Regions from separate parts of the Homo sapiens genome. Here regions 1, 2 and 3 are each reported to be linked to region 4. The links are microRNA targets in miRTarBase. Many come from high-throughput screens and were not tested one by one. Region 4 holds a microRNA gene; each other region holds the end of a gene's coding sequence.

Region 1 (3,098 bases), not on the chromosome of region 4:
TGCTGGCCAGGTGGTGCCAAAAATCAATAGCTTAAGTCTAATCCGGACAGCCAGTGCTTCCTCAAGTAAATCATTTGACTATGTAAATGGCAGTCAAGCAAGTACCAGCATTGGGGTTGGCACTGAGGGAGGTACTAATTTAGCAGCCAACAATGCTAATCGATACTCAACTGTCAGTCTGCAGGAAGACCGGCTAGGTCAAGCTGGCGAAGGTAAAGAGCTCCTCAGCCCAGGAGCCCCCTTGACCAAGCAGTCTCGATCCCCAAGTTTCAATATGCAGCTAATATCCCAGGTGTAGTTTTGACATCCTCCCTCATCTTTCTGCTTACCTTTTAAACTGAACATTTCATTGTGCAAGAAGACACTTCATCCCACATTGTGAAAATATTGGTCACTGTTATCAGATTTCATTTAGTTTAGGTATCTTCATACTGTATTTTGTATCAAAACAGCAATAAGGTTTTCTTTATCCCTCTTTCCTACATCTTCTCTTCACCTATCCCTTGTAAATGTGTTTGTGAAGCAGTATAAAATGGTTGCCTTTTCCATGCCTTCCTTTCTCCTTGGGTGATGTGCAATCCATCGTAGGCTGATCGGTCCCATTTCAACACTGTGAGACTGAGGGTACATTAGAGGAAATGGTGTATATGATCCCTATGAAACGATTCTTTGGCTTTTGTTTAAAAACAAAACGGGTTTGTTCTCATAATCTATAGAACTATGAAGATTACTGGATCATATTTTTTTCTCTTAACCAGGAGTGCCTCAGAGATTCTGCTATGACTTTGGACTTCTCTGAGTCTGTGCAATCATTTTCTGGAGAAGCATGGGGAAAGGTGGTAGACTGCTGCACTTTTTCATTAAAATGAGGGTAGCTCTTTCTCCACCCCCCCATCTCCTTTATCCCGAAGACATAAATGTTCAATTACGGAGGCATTTAAATCAAGTTGTGACCACCTCCATTGGAGGGCAGGACTCTTGATTGTGTAATTGATAATGCACTTTCTCAATGGCTGTATAGTCATTATTAACGTGTCTTCCCTCTTCCCCACAAGGACATATAAGGTCATTTCTGTCCTTCAAGTTTGGCCAACTAACAAATCAGAATCTGAGGGGCATGTTCTATTTCCCAGGAATGATTGACACTTTGGTGCTGGGGTTTTGTGGGGGCGGGGGGTAGTTTTTGTTTAGCTTTTGTGGAGATTGTGTGTGTGAGAGGAGATTTGATTTTTTTTTCTTCTTTTCCTTTGTGAGCTGATGGCTGAAGTGTAACAGTACATCTTCAGGTAAAGAGAGGGATTTCTCAATCTACTTTCTGTTATGTCAGACTATAAGAGAAACCCTTTCAGCTGCTTTCTAGATGTACCTAAATTCAGTCAGACATTTTGGATTAAGAAACCTAAAGTCCTGATACATTACATACTCCAAGGAAATATATCAGGGACAGACAATTGGCTGAAACACTGATACTTCAATGTGACACATTTTTATAGAACATTTCTACCAGGGGGTACTGACCTTGATTTCTCCTACAAGGACCACACTGCCTTTGTGTTTAATGTAATGCAATTTGTGTACCTTCTAATCATATATCTGCAGTTCCTCATTTTTATAAAACTTTGATATCATGCCAGTAAGCTAGATGTTGAATGTATGTAAGTAGCATTTGGTAACTGCTAAGAGGTTACAAAAACATTATTGGTAAAAAAAATTTCCTTAGTTCTGATCTGGTTGGATAAGATTTTATCATAACTTTTCTGGGTCTCAGGCTCTGATGTTTGAAAAAGAAGGGAATATATTGGGTTTTAAAAAAGTGTATTGTGACTTAAACTGTTATAAGTTATCCTTCCACAGAATACATCAGAGCTATCAGTGCTTTGTACATTTAGATGTTTTTACTTGATTATTGTTTAAGAAAAATATACTGAATTTATAGAAAGCAAGTATTCTCCTAATTAGCAAAAGTTAAAATTTTATCTCTACCATTAAAATTACAATAGATTTTGATAAATAACCAGAAAAAACGCCTTTTTTTTTTTCACACCTAGCAATCCTCCCGTTTTTATTGTAAGGACTTTCTTTTTTCCCTAAGAGACTTTCTGTTAGACTCTTTATATATGAGATGCTTGTTTAAATATGGTGGTCTGTAACATTTTTCCAGCTCATGTGAAAATGGAAAACTAGAACCTGAACTAGTATCTACAACATTGCCAAAGTCCAGGGTAAAGCTAAAAGTTGATAAGTAGACAATTTATTGTTTTGTGTGTGTCTGTGTGTGTGTGTGTGTGTGTGTGTGTGTGTGTATGGTGTGTATATGTATATATCACAAAGTTGTATTTTAAATATTTTAAATACCCTTTCTTTTAATTTAAGGGATGTCAAATAAATGAAAGGAGTTTAAAAATAGCCAAAATAAATGAGCTATAAAGGCCCATAACATACTAAAACAGGCAGTTTCAGGTATGTAAGGAAAGGAACATTATACTTACCTAGAAAGTGAGATCTAAAAAAAAATTAAAAATAAATAAAAAATAAAAAAGAAAGTGAGATCTTGGCTATGGCTGGAGGTCAGTCACTTTATGGCATAAATTATTTGGGAGGTAAAAAGACTGTTTTCAATTCAAATTGTGCATTTATTGGCATCTAAATCTAGCATGATTTTGGTTAGAGCACAAAAGAAATACCACATAATACCAAATCACAGCAAATGTTAGAATTAATACAACAAAATTTTCCTTTGGCTAGAAATCTTATGTTATACCTGAAAAATTGGTTTTAAAAAATGTTCATCTTGGCCGGGCACGGTGGCTCACGCCTGTAATCCCAACACTCTGGGAGGCTGAGGTGGGTGAATCATGAGGTCAGGAGTTCGAGACCAGCCTGGCCAACATGGTGAAACCCTGTCTCTACTAAAAATACAAAAAATTAGCTGGGCGTGGTGGCAGGCGCCTGTAATCCCAGCTACTCGGGAGGCTGAGGCAGGAGAATCTCTTGAACCTGGGAGGTGGAGGTTGCAGTGAGCCAAGAATGCACTACTGTACTCCAGCCTAGGCAACAGTGCAAGACTCCATCTCTGAAAAAAAAAAAAAAAAAAAAAA
Region 2 (3,122 bases), not on the chromosome of region 4:
ATGGTTGTCTTCGTCCATTTCCTATTGCTTGTAACAGAATACCTAAAACTGGGTAATTTATAAAGAAACAAAATGTATTTCTTATAGTTCTGGAGGCCGAGAAGTCCAAGGTTGAGGGGCTGCATGTGGGAGCGTCTTTTTGCTGGTGGAGACTCTCTATAGAGTCCTGAGGCAGCGCAGGGCGTAACACGGTGAGGGGCCTGAGGGTGCTAGCTCAGGTCTCTGTTCCTCTTCTTATAAAGCCACAAGTCCTACTCCTGTGAAAACCCATTAATCCATGAGGGCAAAGCCCTCATGACCCAATCATCTCTTAAAGACCCCACCTGTCAATACTGCCACATTGGGGAATAAGTTTCTACATGAGGTTTTTTTTGTCTTTTTTTCTTGGTTGGTTTGTTTTTGAAACAGGATGTCACTTGTCACTCCGGCTGGAGTGCAGTGGCATGATCAGAGCTCACTGCAACCTTGACCTCTGGGCTCAAGTAATCCTTTCACCTCAGCTCCTGCATAGCTGGGACTATAGGCATGCACTACCACACCCAGCTAATTTTCTTATTTTTTGTAGAGACGGGGTCTCGTTATGTTGCCCAGCCTGGTCTTGAACTCCCGGGCTCAAGCAATCCTCCTGCCTCAGCCTCCCAAAGTGCTGGGATTACAGGCATGAGCCAACATGCCTGGCCAACCTGAGTTTTGAAGGGGGCAAACATTCAAATCATAGCAATTATGAAACAAACTTACTAAATTTCCATATGATACTAGCTTAATGAATAAGCTCAAGCTCAACGGGAACATAGCAAACCCTTAACATTTAGCAAATATTTGTTACATAAGTGAAGTGCAATTATTAGAGATAGAAATGGAGTTGGGTAAACTCAGGCTAGTAAACCTGAGGAGGAAAAAGAAAGTGAATAATTAAAATGCAGGGTAAGACTGGCTGTGTACAAACACAGAAGAGATCTCTAGGTCCCAGAAGAGACAACACATTAATGAAAAAAGGGAAGGGAAGATGCTGAGGGTCTGTTCTGATTACAACCTTACTCCCTTTATAGATTAACAGTGGGTCCTCAGTTCAAGCATGAGTGACATAAAGTAAGTTGTTAGCACAATTCACCAGCATCTGTTTACTTGTTACTATGCTTCCTTCTTGGGAGGCATTCCAATTACAATGACTCAGTTACCTCCTCCACCTAGGGGGACTGTGAAAAACAAACTTTTAAGCTGAAATATTCAAACTATTTGACATCAGTCTGAAAAGATGCATTGTTCATCCATTCAATAGACATTGATTGCCTACCCTGCAAGGTGCTGCCATGGGTTGCAGGACCCATGATGCTGACCGGCAGATAGGATTCCTACTAGCGAAGCTTGCAGTGTAATAAGGGCCAGAGTTGTGGGGCACAGTGCAGGATACAGGGCAGATGATAGAGCGAGGCTGTCTGAAGCAAGAATGGAACCTTGGGCATTTTAGAGCAGTGAATCAGTCCTTCAGGACCATGTGCTCAGTTTTTGCTTGAAATGTAACCACAAAACACACTTCCCAAAACAGGGAGTTTTGTTTCCTAGTATATTCAGTTCTGCAGTAGGGCAGATAATTTGGCAGGGATTCCAATCCACTACATTCGATACTGCTTTGACCCAGACTAGTTAACTCTAGAGGTTGGGGCTCCATATGTGAAGCAAAGTTGCTGAGCTATTAAAAAATAAGACATATGAGGAAAGGTTAAAATATGAGATTATGAAGCTGATTGAGGGAAATTGCTGGTGATTTAAATAATGGCTTTCAGACCTCCAATGTGTATATGATTGATGCTGGGCTGAGAAACTTTTCTCTGAATTTGAGGCCAAACACAATTGAAACAATGAGGTCTGTCAACAAAAGGTAGAACTGTCATCATTATTAGTCATGTTATGTTGATGCTGCAGTAACAAACATGCAAACAGAACAACGTGTAGTATCAGGGATGGGAGTACATAAGCCTAGAAGCTGAGACTCAAATTTCATTTTTAGTTTCTTTAAAAAATATTTTTGTTTAGAGACAGGGTCTCATTCTGTTGCCCACGCAGGAGAGCAGTGGCGTGATCCTAGCTCACTGCAGCCTCAACCTCCTGGGCTCAAGCAATTCCCCCACCTCGGCCTCCTGAGTAGCTGGGACTGCAGGCGCATGCCACCATGCCCTGCTAATTTTTAAATTTTTTGTAGAGTCAGAGTCTCACTATTTTGCCCAGGAAGGTCTGGAACTCCTGAACTCAAGCTATCCTCCAATCTTGGTCTCCCAAGGTTCTGGGATTACAGGCGTCAGCCACTGCGCCTGGCCTCATTTTTAGTTTTGCAAGTAGTTAGATATTTCCAAGTCTGGATGTCAGGAGAAACAAAAAAAGGTCCCCTGTGGCCACATGCAGAGGAAGGGCTGTAGACACAGACTAACACTCTGTTTCCTGCTCTTTATTTGATTTTATTATTCTTTGAAAAAAACAGATATGAGAATTGCCGATGCACAGGCCAGCCTGTGCTACCATATGTGGGCTTTGAAAAGATTCTGGATTTTCTGTCTGTATGATAATATGTGCTGCTGTATAGAGCAAGGAAAACAGAGGTGGTTTTCCAAGCTCCACAGCCCATCTTTATCACTGCCAGGTAAAGCTCTGTCCCTTAAAAGTTAGATACAACCAACCAAGTGACATTTATTGAGACTCTACTATGTGCCAGACCTGGGCAAGGTACCTTCTCATAAGGTCGAGCTGGATGACTGGCTGGGATAAAGGATACAGCCAAAACGTGGGGGTCCAACAGGAGGTCGTGGGGACCACATGCTCATCCACAGGACCTGATCTAAGCTTGTTCATAGACCTTCTGTGTATTTTCCTTATAGAAAATAAGAGGATTTTGCTTATCATTTCTTTTCCATTGTTGTCAGTTTCAGTTTTTTATATGTCCTAATAACCATATATTTCATTTTCCACCCATCCAGACTCCTTACTCCTCCCCATTTGGTCTGGGGAGAACTCATAAATGTCATTGGTCACAAATCCACTCTCCACGCTCACCAGAGTCACAAACCCACTTTCTGATGGGTTCACAGCCATGTTGTCATAGTCACAAGACATGTCATCGGGAGTGGCTT
Region 3 (3,122 bases), not on the chromosome of region 4:
GAGCAGAGGGTGCTGGCAGAGCCAGGGCAAGGGCGTGCAGGGCCAGGCTGCACGGCAGAGACGTTCTGCCCATGGCAGGAAGGAGGCGGCCTGGTGATCTGCCCTTGAACCTGCTCCCACACCCCATCCCCCAGAGTGCCGAAGCTGCAGCCGAGGCCACCAAGAATATGGAAGCTGGAGCCGGAAGAGCCAGTTATATCAGCTCAGCACGGCTGGAGCAGCCAGACCCCGGGGCGGTGGCAGCTGCTGCCATCCTCCGGGCCATCTTGGAGGTCTTGCAGAGCTAGGGTGTGTGACTGCCTCCCTTGGCCTCAGCTCCTCTCACTGCTGTGCTGAGGTGGCCTTTGTCACTTCCTTCTGCCTTCCAACCCTCACCTTCCCCCGGCCTGGCCCCATTGGCCCACCCTCTAAGTTGAGCAGGAAATCCTCCACCAAGCTTCCAGAACTACAGACAGCACCCAGAGTGAGCTGGAGTGGGTCCCCATGCCTCTCCAGCATGCCCTTTCCCTTTGCAGGAGGGTGGAGTCCCTGGGTCATGCCCTCCCCTGCCAGCTCTGGGCTTCAGAGATAAGGCATTTTCCTTGTGCAGCCTTTACCTGGCAATCCTAATTTGGTTTTAAGACTCCCTGTGAAATGCTTTCCGCACCTTAACCCCAGTGAGCGTGAAAAAGAAAGTTAATAAACTATAATACATGGAAGCAAGAAAGACACTGCCTCCTCTGAGGGACCTTTTCCCAAGCATGTAAACAAGGGGGCCCACAGCCCTGGCTGCAGGCATCATGACCCATCTTCTACCAGGCAGATCTTTATTACCTGAGCCCCTAAGGCAGTGTCTCCTCAGCTGGGCTGCTTCCACTGAGACCCCCGACCCATCCCCTTTCCAGTACACACACCTGATGCATGTAAGAATGGTAGAGGGGCTTTTCTTAGCATTGAATTAATAATTCAGTGGCTCCTCGGGAGTCGAATGGGCATTTGGGACACCAGAAGGAAAAGAAATCATCATAGTCTAAGGTTCAGTTGTAGATCAAAAAATGCAGCCAGGCCGGGCACGGTGGCTCACACCTGCAATCCCAGCACTTTGGGAGGCCAAGGCAGGCGGATCCCTTACACTCAGGAGTTCAAGACCAGTCTGGGCAACATGGTAAAACCCTGTCTCTACCAAAAAATACAAAATTAGCCAGGCATAGTAGTGTGTGCCTATAGTCCTAACTTGGGAGGCTGAGTTGGGAGGATGGCTTGGGCCCAGGAGGTCGAGGCTGCGGTGAGCCATAAGCATGCCACTATACTCCAGCCTGGGCAACAAAGCGAGACCCTGTCTCAAAAAAAAAAAAAAAAAAAAAAGAAACTGCAGCCAAGCCAGCCCCTAGGTCTCTTTCTAGAGCGATCACTGATGGCACCAGGGTGAGCAGGGGCACTGTATGCATGTGGAGACAAACAGCACATGCCTGGCACACATGTAGGGTAGGGAGTGGTTAAAGGCACTGGCTGTCGACTCATACACATGATCTGAAATCTGATTCTGCTTTAACCCGGCTACAGGAGCTAAGGCCTATTTTTTAGCCCTTTGGGATCTGTAAAATCAGAATGGTACCCACCTCATGGGGACATGAAAGGATTCAAATGAATTGATGAAGATGGGCCATAAAGCCCAGCACAGTCCAAGTGCTCACTCACTGAGAGTTACGGTTATCACAGGGGTTGGGCCCCCAGCCCCTCCCAGGTCATCTGCTCTACCACTAGCTGGTAGGAAAGAGCCTCCTGCCCTCCCAACCCCCGTCACCTACTTGGCCCAAATTTGGCTGCAGGCTCCCCGAGTGCCTGGGCTTCTCTACCCAGGGTCCTGTCTGTCGGCTGCACCATACGTCCCTGACCACAAGGCATCCACGTGCACAGGAGTATGCGCCCAGCAGCTGGGAAGGAGGCTGACCTCAGACGGTGGCCTGTGGATCCCAGCTCTGTCATTTCCTGGCTGGGTGACCTCAACCTAGTCACCCTTTTTGAGTCTTGTTTTCTCAGATTATGAAATAGGAAAAATTTCCTTCCTCGTGAGATAAGCACGTGCCATTAGCTATTAAGGACACGCACATAAATGAGCTGCATGTGAATCCACACATGCCATTCCATGAAGACAGAGGATCATGTGGATCTTTGGTGCCTTCCGGTTGGCCCCTCCCTAGGTCTGTGAGGGTCAGACCTGTCCTGAGGCTTTTACAAATTGGCCCAGAACTCATTTAACCACAGCATCATTTCATTAGAGGGCTGTTATTAGAGACTGAATGTTTGTGTCCCCCCCAAATTCCTGTGTTGAAAGGCTCACCCCCACTATGGTAGTGTTAGGACGTGGGGCCTTTGGGAGGTGATGGGGTTATGAGGGTGGAGCCCCAGAGAGCTCTCACGCCCTTTCCACCATGTGAGGTTATGGTGAGAAGATGGTCTCTGAGGAAGCTGGCCCTTGCCACACACCACATTTGCCAGCGCCTTCATCTTGGATGTCTATAGCCTCCAGAACTGTGAGAAATAAACACTTGTTGTTTAAGCCACCCAGGCTATTATATTTTTGTTATAGCAGCCTGAACAAAGACAGCTTTGATTCTTAACATATTTAATGAAACTCGAGCTTCATAAACCAGTGAAATGCCTACCCCTATGGAGATGGGGAGCTGGTCATGGGACCCAGGTGCCTGGAGGACATCCCAGTGGCTTTGAAGGCTCCAGCCAGTCAAGACGGTCAATATTAGCCCTTCTGCCAACATCTGGCAATGTGAGGCTGGGGTGGACGTTGGCCTGATGTTGCCAGGAGTAGGATGCTGATGCTGCCAGAGAGTAGGTGGGCTCCAAACCCCAGGCTTCTCACTTGCTTACTAAGCACAGCAGTCTGAAGCTTGGGACCTGGCAGTGCGTCTTTGGAGAAGGCAAAAAAGCCACAGCAGCAACACTTAGGAGCAAGACCCTTCCCGCTCTCCACCCTATTTCCTCCCCTGAAGAAGAGCAACAGCTCAAGCTCTAGCATGGCACAGAACGCTAGGTTGGGCCAGGCAAGCAGCCATGGTGGGGCCAGGTGAAGCAATGTGGGTCTCAGCAAGGAACCCCTCTGAAGGTGGCAGTGGCTCCCAGGGCTG
Region 4 (3,122 bases):
AAGGACTTTGAACTGAAAAGCACTTGTATGAATGAAAGCTTATCACTTAGTATGATTTGAAAGTCTGTTATTTGGAACACTGATTTAGTAAATTGTTATTTAGACCAAGTGTATGAATCTTTGAAGTGTAACTTTGAACCTTAATATTAGTACATACGATTATTCTCAGAGTGGGGGTAGATTTTAAAGTTCTAAGTTTTTTGGGAACCTTAAAGGTTGCTACAGAAAACCATTCTACTAATTGGAGAAAACTTTCCTAAATTTTGGAAGAAGAAAAATAATGACCAAGCACATAAACTTTGCTTGTTTGCATCATAGGATCAGAGTTTAAAAGAGATCCTGATCATTTAGTATGAAACTGAAAAATGTAGTTGATATTTAATGAATTCTTTCATTGTGTGTATGGTTGATAGTTTGTTCCTACACATTGGGGTTTGGTGTGTGTGTGAGAGAGAGCAAGAGAGAGAAACAGATTGATTTTACATTTTTCATTGGATTTACTTTTTTACAAAGCATGGTTAGAAGTTATTAATACTTTGATCTCCAGGTTGAGATTTTGGAGATGATTTTTTATTTAATGGAAATATGTAATGAGTGAGCTCTTTTGTCTACGAGCCACTCATTTTTTATCCCATTGCTTTATCGAACGAGGGCTGAAAATTTCAATTTTGAATAGCACATGGCAATTTTCCTCTTAGAGCCAGCTAGCTATTCAGTTAACTGTTCTCCCACCTCAGGATGGTATTAACAAGAACAGGACAGTATACTAAGGCACTAGTTCCCAAACATTACTGGAATCATCTGGGGGTCTTTAAAAATACTGTTTTCTGACTCCTGTCCCTGGATAATTCAGATGTAATTGCTATGGGACGATACCTGGGCATTGAGATTTTTAAAATCTCCCCCAGGTGATTGTAAGGTACAGCAAACCTTGGGAATAGTTGTACTAACTGAAGATTGAGGCACTGGAATAACTAATGTTGGGTAAGATAGGGTAAGAACTTTTTCGCAATAAGGTTTGCAGCTCTTGGGATTCTCACTTGATAATGCTGTTTGGATAAACCATCATCCAAGTTTGAATAAGATCTTATATTTAGAAATGAAAACTGATCTGCAGAATTAGTTTAATCAATAAATGGGAATTTTTAAAAATCTTCTTGGCAATTTGTTTTTATGAATCCCGTTGAAGCTGTGTCTATTGACTACCTAAATCTAGATCATTCTTAATCCAGTGTGTAAAAAACCAGGATGACACAAATGAAAAACTTCAAAAACCTGGAGGTCAGACTATTTTAGTAATTTAGAAAACATTTTTCCCACACATTAATCAGTACTAAAAGAAAAAAGTTAAAACCTATTTAAAATGTGGAAAAATTGCTTCCCAATATTTTAACAGAGAGAGACTGAGAACACACAGCATTGAGTCATCAGGAAAACTGAAGATCTCCCCTGAACAACACTGGGATTTCACTGCAGAGGACTTGAAAGACCTTGGAGAAATTGGACGAGGAGCTTATGGTTCTGTCAACAAAATGGTCCACAAACCAAGTGGGCAAATAATGGCAGTTAAAGTAGGTGATGCCATGATTATTTTTGGTACTTTAATCCATTAGGTGAAATTTCATGGTGCAGTAATACCACTGTTGTTGTGTTCCTACTTTTGTGGTAAATGTGGGTGTTTAAAAAATTGTTTCTCCAACTCCTTTGAGGGTGTTCTGTGTAGAGGTTTCTTATTGGTGGCACATTTTCTATCTCTTTGGAAACATGAGTGTATGAAGTGTGCATGTTGATTGCATTTTTGGCATGATGCATTAACATGTTTTAAACTTCAGGCCCTTCTACTGCCAAGGTGAGTTCAGGCTGGGCGGCTGCACCCCTGGGAGCAGGGCAGTGCTGCACTGAGCCAGGCGGGAGCTGGAAGAAGACGCAGCACACTGGGTTGGGCAAGGTGCGGGGCTAGGGCTAACAGCAGTCTTACTGAAGGTTTCCTGGAAACCACGCACATGCTGTTGCCACTAACCTCAACCTTACTCGGTCCTGACCGGCTCGGCTTCTGTTTGTTTATTTCATCTCTACTCAGTACTGCCCTGTTCCCTGGTTTTAAAGTTGTACTGAAATGCATACCTTGTGATAATGTTGTCACATTTTGTCCTTATTGTGTCGTGCCACTTAATATGTTCATTAAAAAAAAAAAATGGCCAGAAACAGAGATTTGATCCATAGACAATACCTGGCAAGCTTATGCTGGTACCTGTAAAGAACTGGTGGTTTCCATCTGACTCCTAGTTTCATGTAATTGTAATTTATTCATTTGTTTGTTTAGATGTTTAACAAATCTTTGCTGTATGTAAGATATTTCAGGAAAATCAGCAACAGGGGGAACAACTTGCAAAAACAAAGGAAAAAAAGCTAGCTGTGGCCATACCCTCTCTGAGCTTAAAATTCCTATGGGAACAAAAATGTTTCAGTTTACAAGAATTCAGAATGGATTTGCATATAGTCCAAGCTAATCATCTTCCTATTAGTGTCCTATTTTGAGAGTTTGTCAGAGTGGTTGATAAGAGTCCTTAGTTTTTTCTTGACATTTGAGAATGAATTTAAATTAAAATAAAATGCTTTCTGTGTAGAAGTCTGTTGTGAGCCAAACCTTACTGTAACTATTTTAGTATCCTTCACTGTTGAGCATTTCTTTTTGCTGGGTCATATGAAAGTAATGTTAAATTAGTGGTAGGGAAAATTTTTATGATTCTCTCTATGGGTTCCTAACATTGTTTTTGGCTGTATTTTTAAAATGTGGTGAGAACTATAGACTTTTCATAGGCAGGTGTATATACACAACATTTTGTATACAAACCGTAGACCTCTAAAGATGCACAGGTGAAGAACTCTGCATTATGTGTTAAAATAAAATGTTTTATTGGAATGTGAAATGATTTCTGTATTCCTATTTTGTGCCACTGCAGTGTAAGTGGAAAGAGTCATTTTATTTAGACTCCTGGATGAATGTTGTGTTGTCCCTTTGTGCTACCTGTGTGTGACATCCAGTTTTAGTTGGCTGGATCTTAAGGGAAAGGTTTCCTATATAGTTAAAGTTGTAAACTTTTCTTTCAGGTACTAGGGAA

What was found. The annotated mature microRNA hsa-miR-744-3p reads CUGUUGCCACUAACCUCAACCU and lies in region 4 at 2,007-2,028, shown strand. An mRNA with a match to its seed (bases 2 to 7 or 8) in the 3' UTR can be bound and repressed. Matches are read on the target gene's strand: a 7mer-m8 pairs with bases 2 to 8, a 7mer-A1 pairs with bases 2 to 7 and ends in A, and an 8mer does both.
Region 1: miRTarBase lists HYCC2 as a target of hsa-miR-744-3p. Seed matches in the 3' UTR shown: 7mer-m8 at 3,051-3,057.
Region 2: the mRNA of LAYN is a reported target of hsa-miR-744-3p. Seed matches in the 3' UTR shown: 7mer-m8 at 2,051-2,057.
Region 3: miRTarBase lists TKFC as a target of hsa-miR-744-3p. Seed matches in the 3' UTR shown: 7mer-m8 at 1,136-1,142 and 8mer at 1,299-1,306.

Annotation. Positions count from the first base shown.
Region 1 is chr2:200,978,470-200,981,567 of GRCh38, reverse strand. It overlaps HYCC2 (hyccin PI4KA lipid kinase complex subunit 2), which reads left to right. Exons shown (of 13, transcript NM_001321623.1): 13 at 1-3,098. The coding sequence ends at 298. All of the region lies in intron 1 of LOC105373835 (a long non-coding RNA gene), which reads right to left. Among named protein-coding and RNA genes, the nearest start is that of ORC2, 16 kb to the right of the region's middle.
Region 2 is chr11:111,560,271-111,563,392 of GRCh38, reverse strand. It overlaps LAYN (layilin), which reads right to left. Exons shown (of 7, transcript NM_178834.5): 7 at 1,648-3,122. The coding sequence ends at 2,935. Among named protein-coding and RNA genes, the nearest start is that of LAYN, 21 kb to the right of the region's middle. RefSeq lists a silencer at 1,095-1,389.
Region 3 is chr11:61,346,217-61,349,338 of GRCh38, forward strand. It overlaps TKFC (triokinase and FMN cyclase), which reads left to right. Exons shown (of 18, transcript NM_015533.4): 18 at 135-3,026. The coding sequence ends at 287. It overlaps CYB561A3 (cytochrome b561 family member A3), which reads right to left. Exons shown (of 7, transcript NM_153611.6): 7 at 2,589-3,122. Among named protein-coding and RNA genes, the nearest start is that of CYB561A3, 14 kb to the right of the region's middle.
Region 4 is chr17:12,079,960-12,083,081 of GRCh38, forward strand. MIR744 (microRNA 744) reads left to right here and starts at 1,940; the gene lies at 1,940-2,037. MAP2K4 (mitogen-activated protein kinase kinase 4) reads left to right here. Exons shown (of 11, transcript NM_003010.4): 3 at 1,397-1,571.